3 linked regions of the Homo sapiens genome follow. The protein of the gene in region 1 interacts with the protein of each later gene in a pairwise test. Each region holds a gene or a part of one and is shown on either strand. Other genes may lie near its edges.

Region 1 (10,955 bases):
TTGTATTTTTAGTAGAGACGGGGTTTCACCGTGTTAGCCAGGATGGTCTTGATCTCCTGACCTCGTGATCCGCCTGCCTCGGCCTCCCAAAGTGCTGGGATTACAGGCGTGAGCCACTGCGCCTGGCCTATTCTTAGTTTTTAGAAGTGGGGTGTCGCTGTGTTGCCCAGGCTGGAATGCAATGGCTATCTTATCAGGTTCTGTCATATTGTTAGCACCCTACGACCTTGAACTCCTGGGCTCGGGTAATCTTCCTGCCTCAGCCTCTGAGTAGCTGGCACTACAGGTGTGTGCCCCACTATGCCCACCTGGGACATTTTTACTTAGGAATTAATACTCTGGTTATGTGTAAAAATTCAAACAATATGGAAGTATATAAAGTAGTTTTTACGTCCCATGATAATCACTGTTAATTTAAAATCAGAGGGAACCACTGTTAATAATTTCAAGCGAGTATTATACATTAGGGAGAAAAGTATAAACATGCCTATGTAATACTTTTTGTTCTACTTGATTTTATTTGCTTAATTTAAAATATATCTTTCTGTATCAATGTATACGATGTATTTCATTTGACCTGTTCAATATTTTTGCTGCCACAACATATATAGTCAACTCAAAATTTAATGCATTGAACAAAATATATCAAGTACTATTTGTGTACATTGAAGTTATGGTTCTTTCACATTATAGCTATCCAGTCAGTTCGCTGCTATTCCCATGGGTCACAGGAGACAGATGAGGAGTTTGATGCTCGCTGGGTAACATACTTCAACAAGCCAGATATAGATGCCTGGGAATTGCGTAAAGGTAATTGGAACATAAACATATTTGTCTATTTTGGTGTGTAAATATGAACTGCTTCTGCTCCTTTATTGAGAGCAACTGTTTCGAAAACATGCGTTGTTTAAACTGGTTACTTCATGCAACTTGCAGTTAGGAAAGTTTATGGCTACCTATAAAGCAGGATTTTAAGGCAGGCACTATTGACATTTTGGGCCAGATAATTCTTTGTTGTAGGGGACTGTCCTTTACACTGTAGGGTGTTTAGCATCACCTTTGGCCTCTACCTGCTAGGAGCCAGTATGCACACATTCGTATCATGACAACCAAAAATGTTTCTAGGCATTACCCAGTGTCTCCTGAGGGATGAAGTCACCCTTAATTGAAAACCACTGCTATAGCAATAAGGCTAGATGAGCAAAAGGTAACAGTTTTGTACATTTCAAACAATTTACATAGCACGGGCGCGGTGGCTCACGCCTGTAATCCCAGCACTTTAGGAGGCCAGGGTGGGCGGATCACGAGGTCAGGAGATCAAGACCATTCTGGCTAACATGGTGAAACCCCGTCTCTACTAAAAATACAAAAAAATTAGCCGGACGTGGTGGCGGGCGCCTGTAGTCACAGCTACTCGGGAGGCTGAGGCAGGAGAATGGCGTGAACCCGGGAGGCAGAGCTTGCAGTGAGCCGAGATCGCGCCACTGCACTCCAGCCTGGGCAACAGAGTGAGACTCTGTCTCAGAAAAAAAAAAAAGAATTTACACAAAGCAGTCATTTGGTTCCCTTCCCCTTTGGGTGATGGTTTGGGTTTTTTGTTATTTTTGCATTGTTTTGCCATGAATAAGTATCTAAGTAAGTTAGAACTTGTCTTTCCTAAATTTGCAGATGCACACTTAACATGAAAAAATAGAATTAGGTGTAGGGTAATTTATCTCATACCAAAAATTCAATCTCAATGACTATCGTATTCACTGGTATCCTTTGTTTAAATATTTTAAAGTAATAAAAGCAAGAAACCTAAGTGCTTTAAACTTCTCTGCAGAAATGTAATGATTCCCTTTTGCTACAACCAATAGAATTCTTACTGAACAATCTGGAGTAGAAGTAATAAAAAGAACAATTATGTATTCCCATTAAGAGAATCTTAAATTTTATTATGTGTCATTTTGTGCAGATCTGAAAGTAATCATGCCCAATCATTTTCTGGTTGAATGTTTATGAGTCTGTGTACTAATGTTTCTCTATAATATCTCCTTAATGTCCTCATTTAGGCTTCATTAACTCTACGCATTTCTCTGGCTGTTTTTAGGCTGTTTTCCAGTTGAATCTCTTTTATTTTGGTTTTTTTGTTTGTTTGTTTTGTTTTGTTTGAGATGGAGTTTCTCTCTTATTGCCCAGGCTAGAGTGCAATGGCGCGATCTCAGCTCACTGCAACCTCCACCACCTGGGTTCAAGTGATTCTCCTGCCTCAGCCTCGAGAGTAGCTGGAATTACAGGCATGTGCCACCACGCCCGGCCAATTTTGTATCTTTAATAGAGACAGGGTTTCTCCATGTTGACCAGGCTGGTCTTGAACCCCTGACCTCAGGTGATCCACCTGAGCCCAGCCTTGAATCTCTTTTAAAGCATCCAAAATGTGTTCATTGTACTAAGAGTTAAAGATAGGAGGGCCGGATGTGGTGGCTCATGCCTGTAATCCCAGCACTTTGGGAGGCCGAGGCAGGTGGATCACGAGGTCAGGAGTTCAAGGCCAGCCAGGCCAAGATGCTGAAACCCCGTCTCTACTAAAAATACTAAAATTAGCTGGGCTTGGTGGCACCCGCCTGTAATCCCAGCTACTTGGTAGGCTGAGGCAGGAGAATCACTTGAACCCAGGTGGCAGCGGTTGCAGTAAGCTGAGGTGGCACCACTGTACTCCAGCCTGGGTGACAGAGCAAGACTCCATCTCCAAAAAAAAAGTTAGGAGTTGAAAATGACCCTCTTGTTCTCAAAGGGGAAAAAAAAAACTCAGGATTTTTTCCTTCAATCTGCGTGCTGTTGCATAGTTCTTTCTTTCCACTGATTCACTAAGGGAGATCCACTGTGATCTTATTATCTAGAATTTGTTAAAGGTAGGTTTCTCTCATTTTATAGGTAAGAGAATGGAGACCCAGACAGATAAGATCATACATCAGTGATTCAGTAAAAATATAAATAACTCATAGTTTAAGTGAGGCTCTTCGAGGTTGACATGGCCCTTCTTTTTAATTTTGCAGGGATAAACACACTTGTTACCTATGATATGGTTCCAGAGCCCAAAATCATTGATGCTGCTTTGCGGGCATGCAGACGGTTAAATGATTTTGCTAGTACAGTTCGTATCCTAGAGGTTGTTAAGGTCAGTGAAATAATAATGCTAAAATTGTTCTGTAAATGAGTGGGCTATTGCTGAGGTATCAGAATATTCTGTATTTTTGAATTTGTTAAAATGCCTAAAATGAGTCCTTATATAACTAGAAGGAATGTACATTGCAGTTAAAATCTTTCTAGAGGCTACTTTGGCAGCATTTATTCAAGGCCTTACAAATTGTACATGATACACTTTTGTTCAGCAATTCCATTTAAGAATTTATCTTTTTTCTTTTTTCTCTCTTTTTTTTTTTTCTTTCTTTTTTAAGAATTTATCTTGGCCGTGTGTGATGGCTCATGCCTGTAATCCCAGCACTTTAGGAGGCTAAGGCGGGTGGATCATGCAATGTCAGGAGTTTGAGACCAGCCTGGCCAACATGGTGAAACCCTGTCTCTACTAAAAATATAAAAATTAGGCCAGGCGCGGTGGCTCACGCCTGTAATCCCAGCTCTTTGGGAGGCCGAGGCGGGCGGATCACGAGGTCAGGAGATCGAAACCATCCTGGCTAACACGGTGAAACCCTGTCTCTACTAAAAATACAAAAAAATTAGCCGGGTGTGGTGGCAGGCGCCTGTAGTCCCAGCTACTCAGGAGGCTGAGGCGGGAGAATGGCGTGAACCCGGGAGGCAAAGCTTGCAGTGAGCCAAGACAGCGCCACTGCACTCCAGCCTGGGTGACAGAGCAAGACTCTGTCTCAAAAAAAAAAAAAAAAAAAAAAAAATTAGCTGGGCATGGTGGCACATGCCTGTAATCCCAGCTACTTGGGAGGCCCAGGCAGGAGAATTGCTTGAACCCGGGAGGCGGAGGTAGCAGTGAGCTGAGATCGCACCATTGCACTCCAGCCTGGGCAACAAGAGAGAAACTCCGTCTCTAAAAAAAAAAAGAAAGGAATTTATCAAGGAAATAATAAAGGATATATAAAGATTTAACTACAAAGTGTATTCATCTTCTTGCTATTTGTCATACGAAATGTTAGGAATTCTTAAGAGGGAGCTTCCCAGAACTGGTTATACTACACAACTGTTGATACTGTAGAAATGTGTTTGACTTTAAACATATTTGTGTCGGCTGGGCACGGTGGCTCACGCCTGTAATCCCAGCACTTTGGGAGACTGAGGCAGGTGGATCACCTGAGGTCAAGAGTTCGAGACCAGCCTGACCAAGATGGAGAAACCCCATCTCTACTGAAAATAAAAAATTAGCCGGGCGTGGGGGTGCATGCCTGTAATCCCAGCTAGTCGGGAGGCTGAGGCAGGGGAATTGCTTGAACCCGGGAGGCAGAGGTTACAGTGAGCCAAGATGGCACCATTGCACTCCAGCCTGGGCAACAAGAGAGAGAAACTCCATCTCAAAAAATATATATATACATTATATGAAAACATAGGAGGATATATACTAATTTTCCTCCTTCTTATTTGGTCATAATTTCTGAGTTTATTTATTTTTTCGAGACAGAGTCTCACTCTGTCGCCCAAGCTGGAGTGCAATCATTGCGTGATCTCAGCTCACTGCAACCTCCGAGGTCTCCTGGGTTCAAGCAATTCTTCTGCCTCAGCCTCCCGAGTAGCTGGGATTACAGGCTAATTTTGTATTTTAAGAGACGGGGTTTCTCCATGTTGGTCAGGCTGATCTCAAACTCCTGACCTCAGTTGATCCGCCCGCCTCAGCCTCCCAAAGTGCTGGGATTACAGGCGTGAGCCACCACGCCCGGCCGGCACTTTCTTAGTTCTTTTGACTTCTTATTCGTTCCTAAGGAACCTTGTGACAGCACAGGTGTAACTATATATTACAGTGAAAAGTCTCCAGCCCTGGACATATGTATTCTCAAAGTACAGCTCTCCATGAAAAGATACTGTGGTCTGTAAGAAAGAAACTTAAGGTCCGTTAACAGCAAAAGTGTGACATTACTTTATCTATAATGGGTAAGATAATTAAGGGTTCTGTAGGCTATCAATCCATTCAGCACTGGTAGTTAATTCAGTTAAGGTCTCAAATTGGAGGCAAATGAAAAAACTTTTCCCGTTAACTTAATTATTCGTGTTGCCTGCTGGGCATGTCTAATTGCCTTCACAAAATTCTGTCATCACTACCTTCTTTTCCAGTAATTCTAGACTTTAAGATGTTCTGGATTTAGTCCAATTGCAGTTATTCTCAAGGTATTTCAAAAGCCTACCTTGAACAGTACATATATAAGTTGCCCTCTTTATTTTTATTTAATTATTATTATTTTTTTGAGACAGAGTCTCGCTCTGTCCCCTAGGCTGGAGTGTAGTGTCATGATCTCAGCTCACTGCAACCTCCGCCTCCCTAGTTCAAGCATTCCCGAGTAGCTGGGATTACAGGGGCGTGCCACCACACCCAGCAAATTTTTGTATTTTTAGTAGAGACGGGGTTTCACCATGTTGGTCAGGATGGTCTCGAACTCCTGACCTTGTGATCCACCCGCCTTGGCCTCCCAAAGTGCTGGAATTACAGGCATGAGCCACGGCACCCAGCAAGTTGCCCTACTTACCGAACAAATGTGTTAACTTAAAAGTAGATGACCTGTTTTGTTTTGTTTTGTTTCGTTTTTTGAGATAGAATCTTGTTCTGTCACCCAGGCTGGAGTGCAGTGGCGTGATCTTGGCTCACTGCAACCTCCGCTTCCCGGGTTCAAGCCGATTCTCCTGCCTCAGCCTCCCGAGTAGCTGAGATTACAGGCATGTGCCACTACACCTGGCTGATTTTTGTATTTTTAGTAGAGACGGGATTTCACCATGTTGTCCAGGCTGGTCTCGAACTCCTGACCTCAAGTGATCCGCCCGCCTCAGCCTCCCAAAGTGCTGGGATTACAGGTGTGAGCCACCATGCCCAGCTGATCACCTGTATTATTCTGTCCTACCTGCCTCTGCATAAGTAATTAAAGGCATTTTTAAGTTCATTTCATGAATTAATAGACATGGCTTTTGAGAGAGTTAAATGTGAATATTCTCTTTGCCATCAGGACAAAGCAGGACCTCATAAGGAAATCTACCCCTATGTCATCCAGGAACTTAGACCAACTTTAAATGAACTGGGAATCTCCACTCCGGAGGAACTGGGCCTTGACAAAGTGTAAACCGCATGGGTAAGCGACAAACCACTGAAGAAGGCAGGAAAACAATCCAGAGAGGTGTGGGTGGATGACATTTCAGTGTGCTATAGTAAGACCTTTCAGTGTTCTTGTTAGAGGTAATGGCCGTGAGCATGAAGAGATTTTGAGAATACCAGTAATGGTAAATTTAAAGAACTGAAATGATTTCTAGTTGTTGTCATTATTTTCTTTCTTTCCTTCTTTTCTTTCTTTCGTCTTTTTTTTTTTGAGATGGAGTCTTATTCTGTTGCCCAGGCTGGAGTGCAGTGGTGCAATCTAGGCTCGCTGCAGCCTCCGCATCCTGGATTCAAGCCTCAGCCTCCCAAGTAGCTGGGACTACAGGCCACATGCCACCACAACTGGCTAATTTTTGTATTTTTAGTAAAGACGGGATTTCATCCTGTCGGCCAGGCTGGTCTCAAACCCCTGACCTCATGATCCACCTGCCTTGGCCTCCCAAAGTGCTGGGATTACAGGCTTGAGCCACCGCGCCCGGCATCATTATTTTCTTACTGGTAGAAAGACAAATAAAAGCCACCTTAATTAAAGAAAAATCTTCATACAATATTCTAGGCATAAACAGTAGCATAGATGATAATATAGTGAGTCTGTGTACACATATCCAGATTTTCAGATACTTTTATTGTTGCCACATTTGCTTTGGTGTGTTTAAAGTATTTCTATTTGGGCTGGGCACAGTGGCTCACGCCTGTAATCCCAGGACTTTGGGAGGCCGAGGCGGGTGGATCACAAGGTCAGGAGTTCGAGACCAGCATGGTGAAACCTTGTCTCTACTAAAAATACAAAAATTAGCTGGGTGTGGTGGCATGTGCCTGTAGTCCCAGCTACTCGGGAGGCTGAGGCGGGAGAATCACTTGAACCCAGGAGGCAGAGGTTGCAGTGAGCCGAGACTGTGTCACTGTACTCCAGCCTGGGTGACAGAGTGAGACTCTGTCTCAAAAAAAAAAAAAAAAAAAGACTCAACTTGGCTGGCAGCAATGGCTCATGCCTGTAAGCTCAGCACTTTGGGAGGCTAAGGTGGAAGGATTGCTTGAGTTCAGGAGTATCAGGAGTTTGAGACTGGCTTGAGCAACATAGTGAGACCCTGTCTCCTTTAGTTAATTAAATACATACATACATAGAAAGAAAAATATTCAGAATTCAAGGAATTTTTATATTCAGTCTTCCTGTTGAGAAACTGAACAGAAAATGCTGAAAACTTTGTAATCTACTTTTAAGATTTTTTTTTTTTTTTTTGAGACGGAGTCTCACTCTGTCACCTAGGCTGGAGTGCAATGGCATGATCTCGGCTCACTGAACTTCCGCCTCCCGGGTTCAAGCCGATTCTTGTACCTCAGCCTCCTAAGTAGCTGAGATTACAGGCATGCACCACCATGCCCGGCTAATTTTTGTATTTTTAGTAGAGACGGTTTCACCATGTTGGCCAGGCTGGTCTTGAACTCCTGATTTCAGGTGATCCACCCGCCTCAGCCTCCCAAAGTGCTGGGATTACAGGCATGAGCCACCACGCCCAGGTGGGATCTCGTTTTAAAGCTTGCTTTAACGGAGTGGTCTTTTTGTTTGTTTTTGTTTAATTTATTTATTTTTAATTTTGTTATAGAGACAGAGTCTCACTATGTTGCCCAGGCTGTTCTTGAACTCCTGGGCTCAAGTGATCCTTCCACCTTGGCCTTCCAAATTATTTGGGTTTCAGGTGTGAGCCAAAAGCAATGGTCTTTTCATTTTATCTTTGTCCACCCCCTCACCAGCACAACCTCCCTGAAGTAGCTCATCTTTATAATATATGCAATGGTTTTGACTTCTGTGAGTACTTAAAGAAAACTAGTTGTTCAGAATGGAAATTTTCCTAGTTATACTTTTGAAGCTCTTGTTTGTTTTTTGTTGTTGTTTTGAGACGGAGTCTCACTCTGTCGCCCAGGCTGGAGTACAGTGGCACGACCTCTGCTCACTGTAACCTCTGCCTGTTGGGTTCAAACAATTCTCATGCCTCAGCCTCCCTAGTAGCTGGGATTACAAGTGCCCACCACCATGCCCGGTTCATTTTTGTATTTTTAGTAGAGACCGGGTTTCGCCATGTTGGCCAGGCTGGTCTTGAACTCCTGACCTCAGGTGATCCACCCGCCTCAGCCTCCCAAAGTGCTGGGCTTACAGGTGTGAGCCACCGCGTCTGGCCCTGTGATTGATATTCTTTTTCTTTTTTTTTTTTTTTTTTTGAGACGGAGTCTGGCTCTGTCACCCAGGCTGGAGTGCAGTGGCATGATCTCGGCTCACTGCAAGCTCCGTTTTCCAGGTTCACGCCATTCTTCTGCCTCAGCCTCCCGAGTAGCTGGGACTACAGGCACCCGCCACCATGCCCGGCTAATTTTTTGTATTTTTAGTAGAGACGGGGTTTCACCGTGTTAGCCAGGATGGTCTCAAATCTCCTGACTTCGCGATCTGCCTGCCTCGGCCTCCCAAAGTGCTGGGATTACAGGCGTGAGCCACCGCGCCCAGCCCTGTGGTTCATATTCTATAATGAACTCCTAAAAGATGGTTTTAGTTTTCATTTTATCAAGTATTATTCCAAGGGGTCCAGAAGATCTTTTTTATGTAGGATATATTCTAGCTATACTAACTTTTTTTCTTTTTTTCTTTTTTTTGTTGGGAGACAGAGTCTTGCTCTGTCATCCATGCTGAAGTGCAATGAAGCGATCTCGGCCCACTCCAACCTCCGCCTCCCGGTTGAAGAGATTCTCGTGCCTTAGCCTCCCGAGTAGCTGGGACTGCAGGCATGGGCCACCACACCAGGCTAATTTTTTGTATTTTAGTGGAGACGGGGTTTCACCGTGTTGCCCAGGGTGGTCTTGAACTTCTATGCTCAGGCAATCCATTCGCCTCGGCTTTCCAAAGGGCTAGCGTTACAGGCATGAGTCACCGTGTCCGGCCCAAAAAAAATTTCTTTTGTTAAATGGCAGCTACTGGACACTTTTCTGATTGGGAAGGAAGTACCAGTGTATAAACAACAAAAAAGCCACAAAGCTAGTCGCTTGTGGGTTGACAGTAGGCAGGATTAAGTAAGAGCAGTAAAGGGTACAGAGAGACAGTGATTTCCCTGGTTGTAGCACTAAGGGTTATTTTTAAAAGATTTCTACTTTTTCTTTATTCTTTCCTGGCTAATTCTTTGTGTTTTCTCTTACAGATGGGCTTCCCCAAGGATTTATTGACATTGCTACTTGAGTGTGAACAGTTACCTGGAAATACTGATGATAACATATTACCTTATTTGAACAAGTTTTCCTTTATTGAGTACCAAGCCATGTAATGGTAACTTGGACTTTAATAAAAGGGAAATGAGTTTGAACTGAAATTAGGTATTTGTTTCATGTGTTTGCATTAATAAGCAGAAAATTAAGTGCTGTATTGGTTTCATGGTTTTGCTGCCCTCTTACATGCTGAGAGAACTGTGTTAATTCTCTGGAAACCATCTGACATGAAAATCAGCTTCATTAATATGTTTGGGTGCCCTAGCTTGTAAATTAGCTGAAGGCTAGAAGTCATTTATATAGAATTTTCTTGTTGACACCCTAGGCTTAGGGGACTGGTTGTCTGTGGGGATAGATCAAATTGTGTACCTTTCCAAAACAGGTTTTAATGATGTTTAAAAGTGGTCACTGAGATAGTCTTGAGGATGTGCTATGCAGTAGCCAAGCCCTCTTACGGTGTGTTCCTCTCTTAGTGCCCCTTTCCTTTCCTACCTGTTCTTCCCTTGCAGTGGTGTATTAGCCTTGGACATTAAAACATTTGCTTTGTAAATTTGGAGGCATTCTGATTAAACAGCTGAGTAAAACAAATCCTGCTTGTCTTAGAAGCGCCATAATACTAGAACCAGCTGCTGGATAAAGAGGTTCTAGATCTGGGTGACTTCTAGTATAGCCAGTCCAGACTGCAGTATTAGGGAAATTGAATTAATATTAGCTTGAAATTTAGATGTCTTCTCTCCTAGAGCCATGTAAGGGATTGTTATTAAAATCAGTTTTGGTGAAGTTCTAATACTAGTGAGACCTTTTATAAAGGCTGATCCGCTACCAGAAAACCCCCTGCCCAGTTTTTAGGAAGTAGAAATGTGAAACTAAAATGGCACATATTTTTAATGTATAGTTGGTAGGCCATGGTTCTTAGGTTTGATCCCACTGTGGGCCAGCGCTTTCCTCCTCACTGCCATAAAAATGGTCTCGTTCCTCATGTCATGGGAGGAGCAGAGGAAGGAACATAGGGTCACAGTTATCTATGAGGGTGAGATAAATGCTGTGATGGTCTTCATGCTACAAAAATTTGTCGAACACCTACTGTCTAACAAACATGCCAGGCACTGAAGGTAAAGCAGTGAACAGGAGAGACAGTGAATATTGGAACCTGGAGACACTGGAGGTAGGGATAAAAGTTAGGCACAGTGTGGTTATAACTTAATGGGGATTTTGAATTAGGGTAGTAGCCATAGGAATGGAAAGGGATGAATTTTGAGAATCACATTATTGAGGTGTAGTTAATAAGTAATTCGATGAGGGGAAATGAGAACTCTGGGAAGGCCATTTTTGAGATTTGAGTGGTGATGCCATTCATACAGGAGTCAGCAAAAGGAGGACCTTGGTGCAGAGTGGAGAAATTGCTACA
Region 2 (10,955 bases), on another chromosome or scaffold:
GCCCGGCCGCGCGCCGCTGATGGCTTCAACAGCCCAACTCCGCCTTGGTTGGGTTTTGTGTCCTCATTTTCCTGCTCTAATTCACTAAAAAAAACCCAAAACGATCCAACCAACGAAACTAGCGTTTTCGCTAATCCTAGACAGCAATGTGCTACTTAGATTTTTTTCATAGATATTGAGAATGAACTAATGGAAAAACGTTGAATATTTCCCTTTTTGGATTTTTTTTTCTTTTTTAATCCCAGATATATGACAATTGAGACATGACCTGATTTCTTAAAATACTAAAACAATACATGCTGGTTGTAAAATAATAATAAAGAAATGTACATAGTGAAAACTTACAGTGTTTCCTCCACACATCTTAAGCACACTGCTTGTACACATTTATGTATGTGATATATGCATATACTTTTTTTTTTTACAAAAATTGTATAGTAATTCTGAATTTTTGCTTTTCTTGCCTAACAATATGTTAGGGACATCTTTCACTGTCACTACACGTAGATATGTATTTTACATGTAGATGTATATTTTAAATGGCAACAAATTATTCTGCATCTACCAATGTGCATTTAGGTTCTTTTCAGTTTTCCTCTGTCGTAAACAGTAGTGGCTTAATTGAAATTCCTTTTACAGATATCTTTGAACATTCGGGAGTGTTTCTGCAGAGTGGATTCAAAGAAGTGAAATTATTAGGTCAAAATGCAGTCATTTTTTTTAACACTTCATTAAAGACTGCTAAATTATGCCCTAAAAGGGTGATTATCTAATGTCGGCTCCCGCCAACAGTGTCTGAATTGAGACAGCTCCTTTCTTTAAAGGAAATGTGCAAGGTTGTAGACTGGAGTGGGTGTGACTCAATAGTTGAAGTCAATGAAATGAATGTCTCTTTAGAAGTTTATATGAAAAAAAAAATGGGCCATTTAGCCTGTAATGATGTAGAAACAAAGAATCAGTAAAGAAGATTAGAGTGGAATGTGTTTATATATTATCCTTGTTCTCCTTCTCTACCTCACTGGGCTTATGGTCTGGTAGCATTTATTGGTCTGTTATTTTACCATGACAGAATTGAAAGATACCCTCTTCAGTTTATCCTTTCTTTACAGAGTATTACTATTTTTCATAGTATTGTAGAATTATTTTTTAAAATAATATCTGATAATTGTAATAAAAATGGAAATGGTGTGAAACAAAGATCTTCCCTTTCCCTAGTTATTTAGCTTTTCTGATAGTCCTCCCTATGCCGTTAATAGTTTGCTTATGTTGCTATTTCTTAAGGTACCACAAACTTTTGTTTTTAATTTTTCTAATAGTTACCATATAAGTTATATATAATTTTAAAAGTTAAAATTAGGCAATAGATATTGACACCTACTGGATGCTCATAAAATTAACCATCACACTTGTTATGAAATATGAGGAATTTAGCTCAAGTTCACTCTCTGTCTTCCCTGCTGATTTTTTTTTACTATTATTTTCAGTTTTTTTGATAAATATTTTTCTTTACTATCCAAGCAGGAATTATTTTCAGTTTTGTATTAAAAATTGACTGTTGACTTTCTAGGAAGTTACTCCTATAAGAGAGGATAAGAAAAATATTACAATTTCTTCCTGTCTCACTTTGGTTTATTATGACTTTTACATTATCAAGTTTTATATAATTTATATTCTATTTTCTAATTGTTACAGTGCCTTCTTGTTTAAGGTAAATAGACTGATTCTAAACATCGTAAATTAACAGAGAGCTTTATGAGAAGCAGGGTAGCCAAGTGTTTAAGAGCAAGGATTCTGGAGCCAGATTGCCTGGGCTCACCAACCAGTGTGGGATTTGAGGCGTGTCACCTCAGCTCACAATGAAAGGACCAAGCTGCCTAATAAATGAACTGTATTTTGTAGAATAGGATATATATTAAGAACTTACAAGAGGACATATGGTAAATGTTAAATAAGGGCTAGTTATTATTTTTTACTATGATTATTGGGAAACCACGTTGTGCAATTAGACTCGTAAACAAGGAAATAAAATTTTGTGACATGAAAACTGTACCACTGCAAGGAAAAATTCTCTTTTCTTCACTATAAATCATGTTCAGATTTTACTTAAAATGGTACTAGAATTTGTTTTACTTCATATTTGGACTGTAATGTTCTTCTACAACTTATTTAAAAATTTGTTATTAATTTTTTTAACAGAAGAGTTAAACCAGTTCTCACAATGTCCTAGCTTAATTGCACTACTTGATGAATGCATATTGCTTATTTCTTGGAAATAGAATTTTTTCCTTGAAGAATTAGGATTCCTGTTCTAATTTTCACTTTTCACTAATATATGGCTTTCTGATATATATATATATATATATATGTGTGTGTGTGTTTCTGATATATGTATCAGTTTTATATAAAATATTGACCGTTGACTTTCTGTTACATAGAAAGTTCATTCTCATAATCCTATTATGCAGGAAGTTACCCCTATATGAGAGGATAAGAAAAATAGCTTACTTACACATTCCTCTCCCTTCCTTACTTTGGCGCGCACACACACACACACACACACACACACACACACACAAGTCTTAGCTGTAAACCTGAGACTTTAAAGAAAACAATCGAACTCCTATGTTAGTTGCACTGTTTTAAATGGTATATCTTCCTCTTTCTTAAAAACCTTAATCATTTCTTTGGAAAATTTTCAAGAAATGGTAAAATCAGAGAGAAAATATCTGAGCCCTCAAATTCCTAAAATGTCTTTATTTGGCTTTCCCACTTGATTGATCATTTGGTACAGTATTCTGGTCTTAAAATAATTTTTCCTTTGAAGACTTTGCCTCAGTAATTTCTAGCTGATAATTATCAGCTGTGGCTGATAATTCTAATGTGAAACTAAGCCCATTCCTGTTAGCAGTCTGTTTTATCACTTGGCACTTGGTTGGCTCTTTAAATTCCAGGAATTGTTTCCTTCAACTCAGGGAAATTTTCTATGATTTCTTTCTCTTTTTTTTGTTGTTCATTAAAAAAATTTCTTCTAAAAAATGACATATATGTGCAGAATGTGCAGTTTTGTTACATAAGTATTATACATGTGCCATGGTGGTTTGCTGCACGTATTGACTCATCCTCTAAGTTCCCTCCCCTCAACCCCCACCCACCAACAGGCCTTGGTGTGTGATGTTCCCCTCTCTGTGTCCATGTGTTCTCTATGTTCAACTCCCACTTATGAGTGAGAACATGTGGTGTTTGGTTTTGTTTTCCTGTGTTCTCATTAGTCATTGGGCACTTAGGTTGGTTCCATATCTTTGCAATTGTCAATTTTGCTGCTATAAACATACATGTGCTCTGTAGTCAATTGTTTTTTCAGGATGGCTTTTTTATTCTATTGATTTTTCTCCAGTATCTGGTAGTCCTTGGATATCCATTCATTTTTATGAATGAAGGATATGCTGATCAGTAGGGGTAGCTGTGGTGGTTTTCTGTTGAAGTTGTTAGGTTTATTGAAAACCTCCTCTAAATGGGAGAACACTCCATGGAATACTGTGTAATTTGGCAGATTTTGTTAAGGATAAAATTCCGCTCAGGGTGTGTGGCTGGGGAGCCAGCAGGCTTAAGATCGTTATCATTGGCAAAGTAAAAAGAACTTGATCATGAGGTGGGATAATTTAGTATATTTTATTGTTGAATGGAGTTTCCTTTTTTTTTTTACCTCTAGGTCTGTCGTGTGGGTCTGTAGACATCACAGGATTTGTTTCACCCAATCTCCAGCTCCTATACCCACACTAGGGTCCTTTCCAGGAAACCCTTTCCCTGCTGTGTTTAGAGCATGCTTATTCCATGTTGGTGATGGGAAGGGGTTGAAGGAGGCAGGTGGGAAACCTTTCTTTCAACTCCTCTCCAGGCTGACATGCGTTTATTTGTTAGGTTTCCTCTTTCATGTTGCTTTTCTAGAAGACCTCCCTAACTACCTACTGATTCTTTCTCGTAACATCTGTTCCTTTTTCTTATATCACTTATTACAGGCTAAAAATCACATTAACTATGCTGGATTGGACTCTTTAATTGCAAGTAACAGAAACTGAATGTGAACCAGTCTAAAAATAATTTTAAAAAAATCAATTCATGTAACCAAACTGAAAGAAGCATGGAGTACAGCCTCTCTCTCCTCACTTGCTTTCTAGCTCTCACTCTCTTGTTCTCAGATTTGCTTTTCTCAGGTCTTGGCTTTATTTTCTCAAGATAATTGACTCTGTCAAGCTAGGCTTTCCCACAAGAAGCTCAGGACTATATGCCTAAATTGGATGTCACGTGCAGTGTCACACTGTATTCTCTTGGCTTTTCCCTTAAGGCAACAAGATGGCTGCTGCAGCTCTGTTCATCACATGTGCATTTAGTGGAATAAGGGAGAAGAAGGAAGAGTGGAAGAATCATCCTTAGGTATTCCCCATAATCTAGGAAGCAAATGTTCACCAGAATACCTCCACACTCCCACTTTGTTTTATGTTTAGAATTGGCCAGAACTATTGTGTTTGACTACCTCTGCTGCAGAAGAGACTGGGTGTATTAGTCAGTTCTTGCATTGCTATAAAGAAGTAGCTGAGATTGGGTAATTTATAATGAGAAGAGGTTTAATTGGCTCATGGTTTCACAAGCTGTACAGGAAACATGGCTGGGGAGACCTCAGGAAACGAACAAATATGGCAGAAGATGAAGGGGAAGCAGGGACGATCTGCATGGCTGGAGCAGGAGGAAGAGAGAAAGATGGGGAAGTGCTACACACTTTTAAACAACTAGATCCCATGAGAACCTACTCACTATCATCATGAGAATAGCAAGGGGGAAGTCCACCCCCATGATTTAATCACCTTCCACCAGGCCCTTCCTCCAACATTAGGAATTATAATTCAGACATGAGATTTGGGCAGGGACACAAATCTAAACCATATCATTCCACTTCCAGCCCCTCCCAAATCTCCTGTCCTTCTCACACTGTAAAATACAATCTTTCCTTCTCAACGGTCCCCCAAAGTCTCAGCTTATTTCAGCATTAACTCAGAAGTTCACAGTCCAAAGTCTCATCTGAGACAAGGCAAGTCCCTTTTGGCTAGGAGCCTGTAAAATCAAAACCACTTAATTACTTCCAAGATACAATGGGGGTACAGACATTGGCTAAGTACTCCCATTCCAAAAGGGAGACGTTAGTCAAAACAAAGGGGTTATAGGCCCCACACAAGTCCAAAACCTAGCAGAGCAGCCATAAAATCTTAAAGTTGCAAAATAATCTCTTTTGACTCCATGTCTCACACCCAGGTAACATTGATGTGAGGGGTGGGCTTTCAAGGCCATGGGCATCTCTGCCCCTGTGGCTTTGCAGGGTACAGCCCCCATGGCTGCTTTCATGAGCTGGTATTGAGTGTCTGTGGCTTTTCCAGGCCCACGGTGCAAGCTGTTGATGAATCTACCATTGTGGTGTCTAGAGGACAGTGGCCTTCTTTTCATAGCTCCAGTAGGCAGTGCCCCAGTGGGAACTCTGTTTGGGGGCTCCAACTCAACATTTCCCCTGTGCACTGCCTTAGTAGAGGTTCTCACTGAGGGCTCTGCTGCTGCAGCAGACTTCTGCCTGGATATCTAGGTGTTTCCAAATATCCTCTGAAATCTAGGTGGAGGCTCCCAAGCCTAAACTCTTGCCCTCTGTGCACTAGCTGGCTTAACATCACATGGAAACTTCCAAGGATTATGGCTTGCACCCTCTGGAGCAGTGGACTGAGACATATTTGGGACCCTTTTAACCAAGGCTGGAGGTGGAGAAGCTAGGATTCAGGGAGCAGTGTCCTGAGGTTGTACAGGGTAGTGAGGCCCTGGGCCTGTGAAACTATTTTTCCCTCCTAGGCCTCCAGGCTTGTGGTGAGAGGGGCTGCTATGGAGGTCTCTGAAATGCCTTCCAGGCCTTTTCTACATTGTGTTAGCTATTAATATACAACTCCTCTTTACTTATGCAAGTTTCTACAGCTGGCTTGAATTCCTCCCTAAAAATGGGTTTTTCTTTTCTACCACATGGCAAGGCTGCAAATTTTCCAAGCTTTTATGCTCTGCTTCCCTTTTAAGTATAAGTTCCAGTTTCAGATAATCTCTTTGCTCATAAATATGAGCATATGCTGTTAGAAGCAGCCAGACCACACCTTGAATGCTTTGCTGCTTAGAAATTTCTTCCACCAGATACCCTAAATCATCTTTCTCAAGTTCAGATTTCCACAAATCTCTAGAGCAGGAGCACAATGCTGCCAGTCTCTTTGCTAAAGCACAACATGAGTGACTACTGTAGTTCCCAGTAAGTTCCTTATCTCTAGCTGAGACCACCTCAGCCTGGACTTCACTGTCCATATCAGTATCAGCATCTTGGTCACAACCATTCAACGAGTCTCCAGGAAGTTCCAAACTTTCCTTCATCCTCCTGCTTCCTCTGAGTCCTCCAAACTGTCCCAACCTCTGCCCAACACCCAGTTCTAAAGCTGCTTCCACATTTTCAGGTATCTTTATAGTAATGCACCTCTTCCCAGAACCAGTTTTCTGTATTAGTCAGTTCTTGCATTACTATAAAGAATGACCTAAGACTGAGTGATTTATATAGAAAAGAAGCTTAATTGACTTATGATTCTCCAGGCTGTACAGGAAGCATGGCTTGGGAGGTCCAGGAAACTTACAAACATGGCAGAAGGCAGAGGGGAAGCAGGCACGTCCTACATGGCTGGAGCAGGAGGAATAGAGAGAAGGGGGAAGTGCTACACACTTTTAAACAACCAGATCTCATGAGAATGCACTTTCACAAGAACAGCAAGGAGGAAGTCTGCCCCCGTGATTCAATCGTCTCTCACCAGGCCCCTCCTTCAACATTGGGGATTACTGTTCGGAGATGAGATTTGGGTGGGGACAAAAATCCAAACCATATCACTGGGAAAGTGCTTTATTTAGGCCAGCACATTCCTTCCCTGAAAAAAATTAGGGTAGTGATTACCAAGAAGAATGAGTAGAGTAGATTTTAGGTAGGCAGCTAACAATGCATGCTACAGTTTAAAACAAAAATATCATGTACAACATTTATTTGTGTATTTATTGGTTTTTGTCTCCTACCAGATTGTAAACTCTATGAGTGTAGGGACTATGTGTATTTTATTCATTCTTTTATATCCTGCAATTGTAGTTGATACATAGTAGCTGCTCAGTAAATATTGGTTGAATGAATAGAGCACAGAACAGAAACGGAGGTTTTTTTTTTTTATCATGGGCTAATTACTTCTTAGGTGCTTTCAATTAAATTACCCTTTGTCCTCACAACAACACTGCAAGGCAGATATTCATTTCTCTGTTATATAAATAAGAAGATTGAGGCTTTCTTCTAGGTCTAATCTGCTATGAATCCCATCCAGTGAAATTTTATTTTCAGATACTGTATTTCTCATCTGTAGAAGTTCCATTCAGTATTCTTGTGCATCTTTTTCTTTTGTTCTCATTTAGCTTATGTTTTTCTTTAAATTCGTGACCATGTTGAAGATATAGCCAGTGTCCTTATCTTCTCGTTTCCTTATATATGTCATATTTGGGTGTGGTTTCTATTGACTAATTTTTCTAACAGTTATTGATAGTATTTGACTACTTCTTTCCATGCCTTTTTGAGTAACCATAGCTGAGCTTTATTTGTGGATTATTTTAAGGTATGATAAATTATATTACATGTATTTTTAAGAATAAACTGTTCAGAATAATTTTAGATTTACAGAAAAGTTGCAAAGACGGTACAGAGTGTTCTTATATACTCCTTACCCAGTTTCCTCTGTTGTTAATATTTTATATTAGTATGACACTTGTGATAATTAAGGAACCAATATTGATACATGATTATTAACTAGGATCCAGATTTCATTCATATTTCATTATTTTTACTTAACATACTTTTTCTCTTCCAATACCTTATCTATATGACCACATTACATTTATTATGACTGTGATAGTTTCTCAGACTTTATGTATTTCTGCAATGACCTTAAAAGTTTTGAATAGTATTCATCAGGTATTTTGCAGAAAGTTGCTCAATTGGGATTTTTCTGGTGTTTCTTTCTCATCATTAGACTTGGATTATGGGTTTTTGGGAAGACCATCAAAGTAAAGTGCCTTCCTTATTACATCATATCAAGGATCTATACTATTAACATGACTTACTACCGTTTGTGATGACTTTGATCATGTAGTTGAAGTCATATTTGTTAGTTTTCTCTGCTGTAAAAGTTGTGTTTTCCCCATATTTCCATACTGTAGTCTTTCAGAAGAAGTCACTGTGCAGTGCTCACGTTTAAAAAGTGAGAAGTTATGTTCTGCCTGCTTGAGGGCAGAATATCTACATTAATTTTCTGGAATGTATTTATATGGAGGATTTGTCTCTTCTCCCTCATTTATTTACCTATTCAATTATTTATATATATAGGAATTCACGGATATTATTTTATACTTTGGTTTAAATATCTTACTACTTTATTTTCTTGTTCAGTTTATTTCAGGTTTGGCCATTGAGTACTCTTTCAGTGACTTCTCTTTTGTGTCTCTTTGACATCCCCCCATCTTTGTGTGTGTGATTTTTAGTTTGTTTTTGAGCACTTCCTTACTTTCTGGCACTACAAGGTGCTCTGAGATCATCTTTTATGTCTCCTTCCTCCACGCTAAAATTGGACATTTCTCCAAGGAGCTCTGTTTGATTTTATTGTAGAATGATATTAGAAATCAAGATCTGGGCAGTGAGTGTGCCTCTTCCTTCTGGGATATTGTTGCTTGTAGGCCTTCTTAGCTGGCAAAACAAAGAAATATACATTTATATTAATTATGTATATATATGGGAAATATATTCTTTGTAATATAAAGTTCTGTGGATTTTGATGATGCACAGTGTCATGTATTCATTATGATAGTCTCATTTCGACTAGTTTCACCTCCCTAGAAACTCCTCTGTCTTTTGTCTATTCAACCCTTCCCACTCCTCAAACCCTTGGCAACCACTGATCTGTTTACCATCTCCATAGTTTTGCCTTTCCACAATGTCAAATAATTAGAATCGTACAGTGTGTAGCCTTTTCAGACTGGCTTGTGTCACTTAACAATATATTTAATATCTATCTATGTTTTTTTCTGTAGCTGTAATTTCTTTTTATTGCTGGATGATGTCCCATTATATGTATGTTCCACATTTTGTTTATTTGCCTATTGAAAGACATCTTGATTGCTTCCAGGTTTGGGTGATTATGAATAAACATTGGTGTGCAGATTTTTGTGTAGGTATGAATTTTTATATCAGTGGGTAGATATCTAGGAGTGGGTTTGCTGAATCATGTGATAAGACTACTCAGCATTGTAAGAAACTGCCAAACCATCTTTTAGAGTGGCCTAGTATTTTTCATTTCCACTGGCATAGAATGAGAGTTCCTGTTGCACATTTTCATCAGTGTCGATGTTGTTAGTGTTTTGGATTTTAACTACTGTAATAGGTGCATAGTGGTATCTCATTGTTTAGATGTGCAATTCTGTAATAAATGATATTGAGCATTGTTTCATATACTTATTTGCCATCTGTATATATTCTTTGGGTGTCTGTTCAGATCTTTTCATTTTTAAATTCATGATTTTTAAGAGTTCTGTGTATATTTTGGATACAAGTCTTTGAGAGATGGGTGATTTGCGAATATTTTCTCTCAGTGTGTGACTTATTTTTTATTGTAGCAGTGTCCATTGCAAAACAAAACTATTAATAAAATCCAACAACTTTTTTTTTCTTTCATGGATTATGCTTTTGGTATTGAACAAAAAAACTCTTCTCCAAATCCAAGGGCGTCTAGTTTTTCTCCTATGTTATTTTTGGAAGTTTTTACATATGTATATATTTATAAGCCATTTTCTGTTAATTTTTATGTTTTATATAAGGTCTGTGGCTAGGTTCTTTTTGCTCCCCATATGGACATCCACTTGTTCCAGCACCATTTTTTGAAAATACTGTCCATTATTTTTTAAATTGTCTTTATTAGAAACCACCTGACTTTATTTGCATATGTCCATTTCTGTGCTCTCTATTCAGTTCTATATGTCTGGTTTTTTTGAAACCAGTATCACACTCTGTTCATTACTGTAGGTTTATACTAATCTTGAAATAGTGTAGTGTGAATCTTCCAACTTTGTTCTTGTTCTTCAAAATTGTGTTGGCTCTTGTTGGTCATATGCTTTTCAAAATACTTTTTAGATTCAGTTGTTGACTTGTACAGAATAGCTTGCTGTGATTTTGTGTTGAAGCTATAGATCGAGTTCAGAAGAACTGACATCTTAACAATATTGAGTTTTCAAACTTATGAACATAGAATATTTCTCCAGTTTTGTTAGATTTATACATAAGGGTTTTTGGTATGCTATTTTAAATAGTATATTTAGTTTTTCTTAAACAATTAAATTTCAGTTGTTCTTTGCTGATATCTAGGAAATAAATTAACTTTTGTATCTATTGATTTTTGTTTGCATGCTGGCCATTGTAATTTCCATTGTTTCATAGAATTTGGATTAGTTTCTGACAGTTAAGTTACTTGTGGATTAGCTTGTTCTATGTAAGGTTCCTCTTGAAGGTTTACAAAGGCAGGTCTCTAGGAAGGTTAGTGCAGCCCCACTATTAAGCAATGAACTCTGGGTTCTTTACTGAATGCCTCATGTATTCAGTGCCCCAAGATTTCCTCACTTTGTCTGGTGGAGACTAAAATGTTTCCCAGTTCTGTGTAAGCTCTGCAAGTTGTCTGGCTTACAATTTTCAGAAATTTTTCTTTTCTTTCTGTTTGTTCTTTGTATGACTCTGTCAAAGTTTACGTTATGCATCCACAGATTGACATGCAGCCAAAGAATCTAGGAAACTTTTATGCAGATTTATGGACTTCTTTGTCTGCATA
Region 3 (7,000 bases), on another chromosome or scaffold:
GCCCTGGGCTCTTCCTGACATTTAATGCCAAGCTCCTTCTCCTGGCTAGTTTGCATGTTTTCAGCCTGGGAGGTGCCCCCTGCCAGATTCTGCTCTCCCACCTCTCAGCAGCCGGGGTTGGGGGTGGGTAGAAAGGGGCCTCCAGACTTGGGGAGGGAGAGGCTCATCCTTCCTCCCCAGCCAGGGACCTTAGTGTGACTCTGCTGGGGGTCGGATGGGACCGGGACCTCCCCAGGATTATGACGGCGCACCACCAGGATAAAGACCCCCCTCCTTCTCCCTCTAGCTCTGGCACAGGGGAGACGTGGCTGGAGGGACTGCCCAGCCCGGGGCTCCAGCGCCTGAGACTGGTTGCGGGGCAAGGCCCAGGCCTCTCTGCTCCTGGGGTAGCAAGTTGCTTTGAGGGCTGCTGGGACCTAGCTCCTCCTGCCCCACCCTACCCTCTGTGCCAGGACAAAAGGGGGATGTGTCTCTGCTGACACTTCACAGGTGGGAACCGGTCCTGATAACCCCTTAATAACCCACTCCCACCCATCTCAACCTTGTTTGAAGCAATTTCTGTTCTTAGCCTGTCAGGACAGTTCTTTCTGGACTTTTCTCATCTGTGATGTTGGAGTCCTTCACTTTGTCCTAACACCCCTCTCCAAGCCTGGAGGTGTGCTCCAGGGCCTGAGGATCAGGGCGCAGGAATGTTTTTTCCCTTCAGCCCATCAAGATTTTACAGACCAACAACCAGGTGTGTGGAGGGCCTCTGCCTTCCCTGGCCTGTGCTGGGTCTGGAGGGGCCGCAGAAACACGGCAGATGGAGACAGCAGTCACCACTGTGGACACACACCTCTCGGGAGACAGTGAAGCCTTCTCACATCGCTGTCCTGCCTGGTGACTTCAAAATCCAGACACACAGCTGTCTTTATGAGTCCCTGTTTCACTGCTGAAGAGGCTGAGGCCAAGAGGATCGGCCAAGGGGCCTCAGGCAGGAGCAGCAGAGCTCCGGTGACATCCGTGTGTTCTCATGCCCTCAACGACCCTGCTGGGCAGGGCTGTGGGGAGCAAGAGACCCAGGAAACCTCACGACCCCTGTCCTGTGGCAAGCTGGGAGGTACGGCGTATGCGGGGCTGGAGGAGGGTAGGGAAGAGGGAAGGTACTGTGGCCGGCCCTTCAAGGAGTGTACCGGCGATTTGGGGGTGAGGACGAGACTGTGCCAGAGAGGGGCAGCCATGTGACCCGGGCTGCATCATGGCAAAGCGGGGATGTGCAGGTGGTGGGGGTATGGCAGCCTTGGTGTGGCTAAGAGGCCTGACGGGGGCACTGAGAAGTGAAATGTATTTATATACACATGGGCTCAACCAGGGCTGAAGGAAGACGTGAATGGCAATTTCTGGAAAGCCCTGAAGGTTGAGCGGAATTGTAGTTGCTATGGTGGGAAACTGGGTTCTGTCCCCGCCCCGTCAGCATGACTCACTGCAAGCCCCAGGTTTGTCTGGGCTGGGGTCCCTGCTGGCTGGAGGAGGCGGGGAGGCACTGCTGCTGGGGTGGGAGCCAGGCCTGATGGGCAGCTGGTGAGGTGCAGGACAGCCTGAAGCTGGCTCTGCTTCTTCAGAAGGGTGGGCTGAGTCTTTCAGAGCCTCCAGACATCAACTCCAGGGACAGCCACACCCCTCATCCTGCCAAAAGTGTCAGCTGTAAATGGAGTATGCCTTTGCTTACAAGGGAGCCCCAGGTGTCCACCTCTGCGTCCCCACCATCCTTCTTTAAGTCCCCAAAGCCAGGCTGATGGCAAGATGAGGGTCATGGATCGTAAAATCCAGGCAGTGCCAGGGCTAACAAAGTCCTCAGAGATGACCTGGCCTACAGAGCAGGAGACTGAGGGCTGGAGGGACCAGGGACTCACCCAGGGTCTCTCCTATGGAGGGAACAGGGCAGGGTGTCACCTGCACCTCCTGAAGTGGAGGTCTTCGTTCTTTCCAGTCCACATCCCCTTTTGGAGTAAACTCAGCCACGATGGTCCACTTGGGGCTGCGGTGGGCCTCTGTACCTCCAGGCTGCGGGCACCTGTGCTACCCACACCCCACTAAGGCAACTGCTGTGGGGCTGGGTTGGCAGGTGGCCTGAGCAGAGGCAAAGGGGATGGTCAACAGGGGCAACCTTAGGAGCTAGAAGATGCCGGGTCTGCCAGCACCAGCAGAAAGGAGGGTGGAGCCGAGTCTTGAGTTCGAGTCCCTGCTCACTCACGCATGGACAGGTGCCCCGTAGCAGGTCACAGCGCCCTTGTCCGTCAAGTGGGAATAATGCTGGCTGCCCCAGCTGGGAGGGCCCGGCAAAGCAGTTTATTCAGTTTGACCTTCCTCCTGTCCCAGAAAGCGCTGGAAGTAGTGCCAGTGAGGGTGTGTGTGGACACCCAGGCTGCCCATGCAGCAGGGCACAGAGGAGGCTTCACTGATGCAATGTGTTCCTGCTGCCCGTGGGAACTGTGGGAAGAGAAAAACCACTGGGTTCCCCTGGCGCTCCACTTTGGCTTCCAGTGCCCCGTCTTCCTGCTACGTGGCCCCGCCCCCAGCTTCCACCTGCCTCCCGCCCCACAAAGCCTCACCCACTCCCCTGTACTTCCCCCAACAGACCCCAGCTCCTGGGCCCACTAGCTGGCTCCCCAAGGTGAAACTCACACAGATCAGGGCTCCTGAAGAAGTTGTTAGGGGGACAGTTGGCCTGGACAGTTTTGTGCCCAGAGGAGGTGGGGAAAGCCCGGAGATCTAGAAGAAACCCACCTCGTCTACTCATGCTGAGTCCAAGACAGCAAGATCTCTCTCACTCAGTCACCTCCCTGCTCTCTTCTTCTGCCCTTGGAGACCCTGGGGAAGCAGGTGCTTGGAGATGGCCACAATGGGGTGCTTGAGAGAGGGCAGGAGCTGCTGGCCCGAGGTGGCAGCCTGGGCCCCCTTCCTGGGCAGCGGGGTGGTCTGTCCAGCGGGCAGAAGTGGTGCTCTGGGCAGTGAATGGAGGGCCGTAAGGAAGGGGTCTGGCACTTCTCTTGGGTCCAGCTAGTTTGAAGAGCAGTTTGAAGGGTGAGGTTGCAGCAAGGTCCTCCCTGTGGAAGGGTTGGAGGAGCAGAGAAGGGGTGGGAGGAACAGCAGGGCAAGAGAGAGGCTGGGGCCCCAAGGGGATGGGGCAGGGCAGGGGTCAGGGTGTTTGGAGAAGCCAGACATGCTACTGCGGCTGGGCCTGGTCATGGCTTTGGCTGGGACTTCCTGAGGCCTGGGTAGCCCAGCTTTTCTCCAAGGTGCTGACCAGGGCAGGCCCATGTGGCCCCTGCCCACTCTGCATGGCTCCTGGCCAAGACCTGGCCTCACCTCCACAGCCCCTGACTCCAGCCCATTTAAGGGGACCCAGGGACTTGGATGGATGGAGGGAGGGGCTGACAGACAGCTCAGTAGGCCACATGGGAAAGCCAGAGGAGGTCTGTTCCCCATCAGACCTCTTCCTCCTGCAGTGAGGCCGGCTGGGGGCTGAGCAGCAGGGCCAGAGTGGCCATCTCTGTCACTCCCTCAGTGCTCTTCTCAATGGGGACTAAAGCTGGGGTCTTGGGCTCTGGGCGGGCTGGCATTGGGTCTCAGGATTGAGGTAGGGGTGAGGATACATTTACCCCACACCACCATCTCCCCAGGAGGTAGGGCCTGAGAGCCGGGACCAAGCAGGATATGGAAGACAGGCTCCAACCCGCACAGCGACCTGGGTCCTTAGCAAACGCCTCCCAGGTGACTCCATTCCCGGAAACTGTGGTTCGGGAGCTGTCAGGGAGGGCATCTTTTGCTGATGCCAGTTGGGGTGTGGGAGTGAAAACCTGGGAGGCAAAGGGTTCAAGGGGCACATTTCTAGCCCCGAGGGGTGAGAGTAGGCAGGGTAGTGGCAGGAAAAGCTGCACTAAATCTCTCCTTTTGGGTCCCTCTGCTCACTTTCCTTAATCTTCCTTCCTGGGGGAATGGAAGGCGCTGAGAGAAGGGGCCCAAGGTGGCTAATCCCCCTGGCCGCCACCCCACCATTCTGCTCCTGTCTCTGGGCCTTGGCCTCCACCAGCTGTTACCAAACTTTCTTTGTCTGGAGTGGGATCTGGGGCCTCTGGAGCAGGAGGGAGCCAGGACACGCTGAGCCTTAATCCAGACATGTGGCTTAATCCAGAAGAGATCAACTCGAGGTTTGGGAGCTGGAGGCATCGCTCAGGAGACGGCAGCCCGTGGGACTGGCAGGCCAAGGCTGCAGGAACGCTGGGTCCTGCCATCTGAGGACCCTGGACATGGCAGACACCTGGCACGTCCCAGGACCCTTGGCCTACGGAGCAGTGGCCTGAGTGTCAGGAGGCCTCTGGTCTGGCCCTGGCTGTGCTGTGTGACTGTGGGCACCTCCCTGCCACTCTTTGAGCCTGAGCTTTTCCAGTGCACATGTGTCCCCATGGGTGGACCATCACTGATGGATTTAATCCTGGGCTGAATTGCATGGCACAGATGAGGCGAGCCTAGGAAGTCGCAGGAGGGAGCTATTAGGGAGGGCTCGCTGGGGCAGGAGGGCTTTGGGATGAATTGTGATGAGAAGGAAAGGGCATCTTAGAAAATAGCCATGTTGTGCCCACAGCACAGGGGCAGGTATGAAATGCCATTCTCATTAGAGCTTGGATTTGTGGTCACTATGTCAATCCCTGGTTCTGGTCCGGACCCTGCTGCTAATAAGCACATGAATCCCTTCCCCACTCTGGGCTTCATTGTTCCCATTCTATGAAACAATCACATAATATATGGCCCCTTCCAGCTCTGATTATCTGGGCCAGGTAGGAGGTAGACTCAGAGGTAGGCACCAGCCACTGGGATGGGGCAATGGGGAGCCATGGGAGATTCTTGAGCACAGGGGTGTCTGATGAAAGGGTGCTGCAGGGATATGAACAGTGGGGTGGAATGAAGAGCCAAGAGGTGGGGACAGACTTTAGAGCATCAAGGAGCCCAGTCAGGAGGTGGGCAGATCCCCTAGGAAGATGGGACTGGCCAGAGCATGCACCTCAGAGAGAATGTGGTCCAGTGAGCAGAACCCACACCTGGCCAGGAAGAACCCTGGACAAGCTGCACAGCCTCCCTGAGCCTCACTGTCCGCATCTATAAAGCAGGGCTCTGGAGTCCACGTCACCCTGGCTGTGGGTAGGAAAGCGGGTGATGTGGGTGAAAGCCTGGGCGTGGCACTGGTGCTCACTGCCAGGGGCTCACAGTGCCGTTCTCTCTTCTTCCCTCCTGAGGCCAGCCCAGAACCTTGAGACGCCTAGTTGCAGGTTGGGCACACCAGCCCTGGCTGCCTGACCAGTAAGCCAAGCCCCCCTACTCTAGGCCTGGGCTGCCTTGGGGACGGAGCATTCCCCACCACCCCTGATCTGCAGAGAGTCGAACCTTTCCTCCAACCACACAGTTAACCATTAACTTATTTTTCATCAGGGAAGTGTTGGAGCTAGGACCGAGGCTTGGTGGGGAGTAGATTCCTTGGCATTTAGGTATAGGGCAAGGTCAAGCTGGAATGTGGGGTATAGAGGGTGAAGGAGCCCGAGCCAGGAGTCAAAAGACCTGGATTTGGGGATTTACCTCTCTGCACCTTGACTTCCCCATTAGCAAAGTAGGGATGAGAATAAGACCTGGGCCAGATGAGGTAGCTTGTGCCTATAATCCCAGCAGTTTGGGAGGCTGAAGCAGGGGGATCACTTGAGCCCAGGAGTTCGAGACCAGCCTGGGCAACATAGTGAGACCATGTCTCTACAACAGATTTTAAAAATTAGCCAGGCATGATGGCACACACCTGTAGTCCCAGCTACTTGGGAGGTTGAAACAGGAGGATCACTTGAGCCCAGGAGGTCGAGGCTGCAGTGAGCCATGATCATGCCCCTGCACTCGACAGAGCGAGACCTTATCTCAAAAAAAGAGAGAGTAAGGCCTGTGCTGCCTTTCTCCTGGCAAGGGGATGGATGTGAGGGCTTCACATGCACTCAGCAAATGTGTCAAGGATGTGTCATTATATGCCTTCCTGGCAAAAGCTGCCACCTGCCCTGCCCATTCATCCCCACCGACCCCACACAACCATGCCTGAAACACAGCAGCTGCCTCCTGTCCTACCTGTGGCTGAGGCCAAGCAAACAGGAGGGCCACAAGGGAAGCGAGTTCTGCTTCTTGGAAAAGCTTCTGTCTCCCTGGCATGGCGCCCAGGGTGTTGGCAGAGACTGTCCTAACGTGGCAGGCATGGGGGCTCTGGGGATGTGGACGGGGCAGGAGGCAGGCAGGGGGTGATGAAGGAGGGGTGGGGGGCTGCGGGGGGGGGTCCCCAGGGGTGGAGCCACCTAGCGGGTAGGGCATGGGCACCAGGCAGGGTGGGGCCCAGGGGCAGAGCGAGCTGTTGGCACTGCCTGAGTAAATAATGTGGGCCCACAGCACACACGAGTGTTTGCACAGAAGGACTTGAAATGATTCCAGGTCTGCCCTCTGTCCCCCACATCCCCAGCCCCGCCTTGGTCTCTGCCCACCCCACCCCACCCTGACCTTTCCTTCCTTGTCACTTAAAGGAGCCCTTGAATGGGAGAGTTGAAATCAAAGGGAACACCCTTCCCTCCTGCTGGCATTTTCTCCACCACAGGAAGCTGCAGGGCTGCCATGTAACACTGGGAAGGTTGGGCACTGCACAAGGAGGGTGGGCAGAGGAAGCTGAAATTCTACCTAGGCTCCATTCGTCAAGCTATGCTATCCAGGGGGAAGGGATGTCATTTTCTGAGTTGTGTGAAATTGAATGGGCTAGCTGTGGCCCTACCGAAGTGGAGGTGTCTTCCAGACTGGGTTCTTTCCCTTGTCCCACCTGCAGAAGCAAATGCCAGCTGCATACGGAGGCTGCGCGGGTCAGTCTCACAGGGTAACTGGAGATGGATCAGGGAGCCCCCTTCCCCTCCTGCTGTCCCAGTAGGGCACCATAAATGTCACTGTTAGAGAGGAT

The links.
Region 2: the proteins of COX5A (region 1) and EPM2A interact in a two-hybrid assay, tested with the Homo sapiens proteins (one study listed by BioGRID).
Region 3: the proteins of COX5A (region 1) and SPDEF interact in binary tests that used the Homo sapiens proteins (3 or more experiments, as listed by UniProt).

The regions. Positions count from the first base shown.
Region 1 is NC_000015.10:74,918,971-74,929,925, reverse strand, and holds the end of COX5A (cytochrome c oxidase subunit 5A, mitochondrial precursor), read left to right. Parts: intron 1-693; coding exon 694-810; intron 811-3,038; coding exon 3,039-3,160; intron 3,161-6,155; coding exon 6,156-6,269; 3' UTR 6,270-6,278; intron 6,279-9,483; 3' UTR 9,484-10,135; downstream 10,136-10,955. UniProt on the Homo sapiens protein: Component of the cytochrome c oxidase, the last enzyme in the mitochondrial electron transport chain which drives oxidative phosphorylation.
Region 2 is NC_000006.12:145,723,822-145,734,776, reverse strand, and holds part of EPM2A (laforin), read left to right. Parts: intron 1-10,955. UniProt on the Homo sapiens protein: Plays an important role in preventing glycogen hyperphosphorylation and the formation of insoluble aggregates, via its activity as glycogen phosphatase, and by promoting the ubiquitination of proteins involved in glycogen metabolism via its interaction with the E3 ubiquitin ligase NHLRC1/malin.
Region 3 is NC_000006.12:34,546,330-34,553,329, reverse strand, and holds part of SPDEF (SAM pointed domain-containing Ets transcription factor), read left to right. Parts: exon of another isoform or gene 1-912; coding exon of another isoform or gene 913-1,099; intron 1,100-7,000. UniProt on the Homo sapiens protein: May function as an androgen-independent transactivator of the prostate-specific antigen (PSA) promoter. Binds to 5'-GGAT-3' DNA sequences. May play a role in the regulation of the prostate gland and/or prostate cancer development.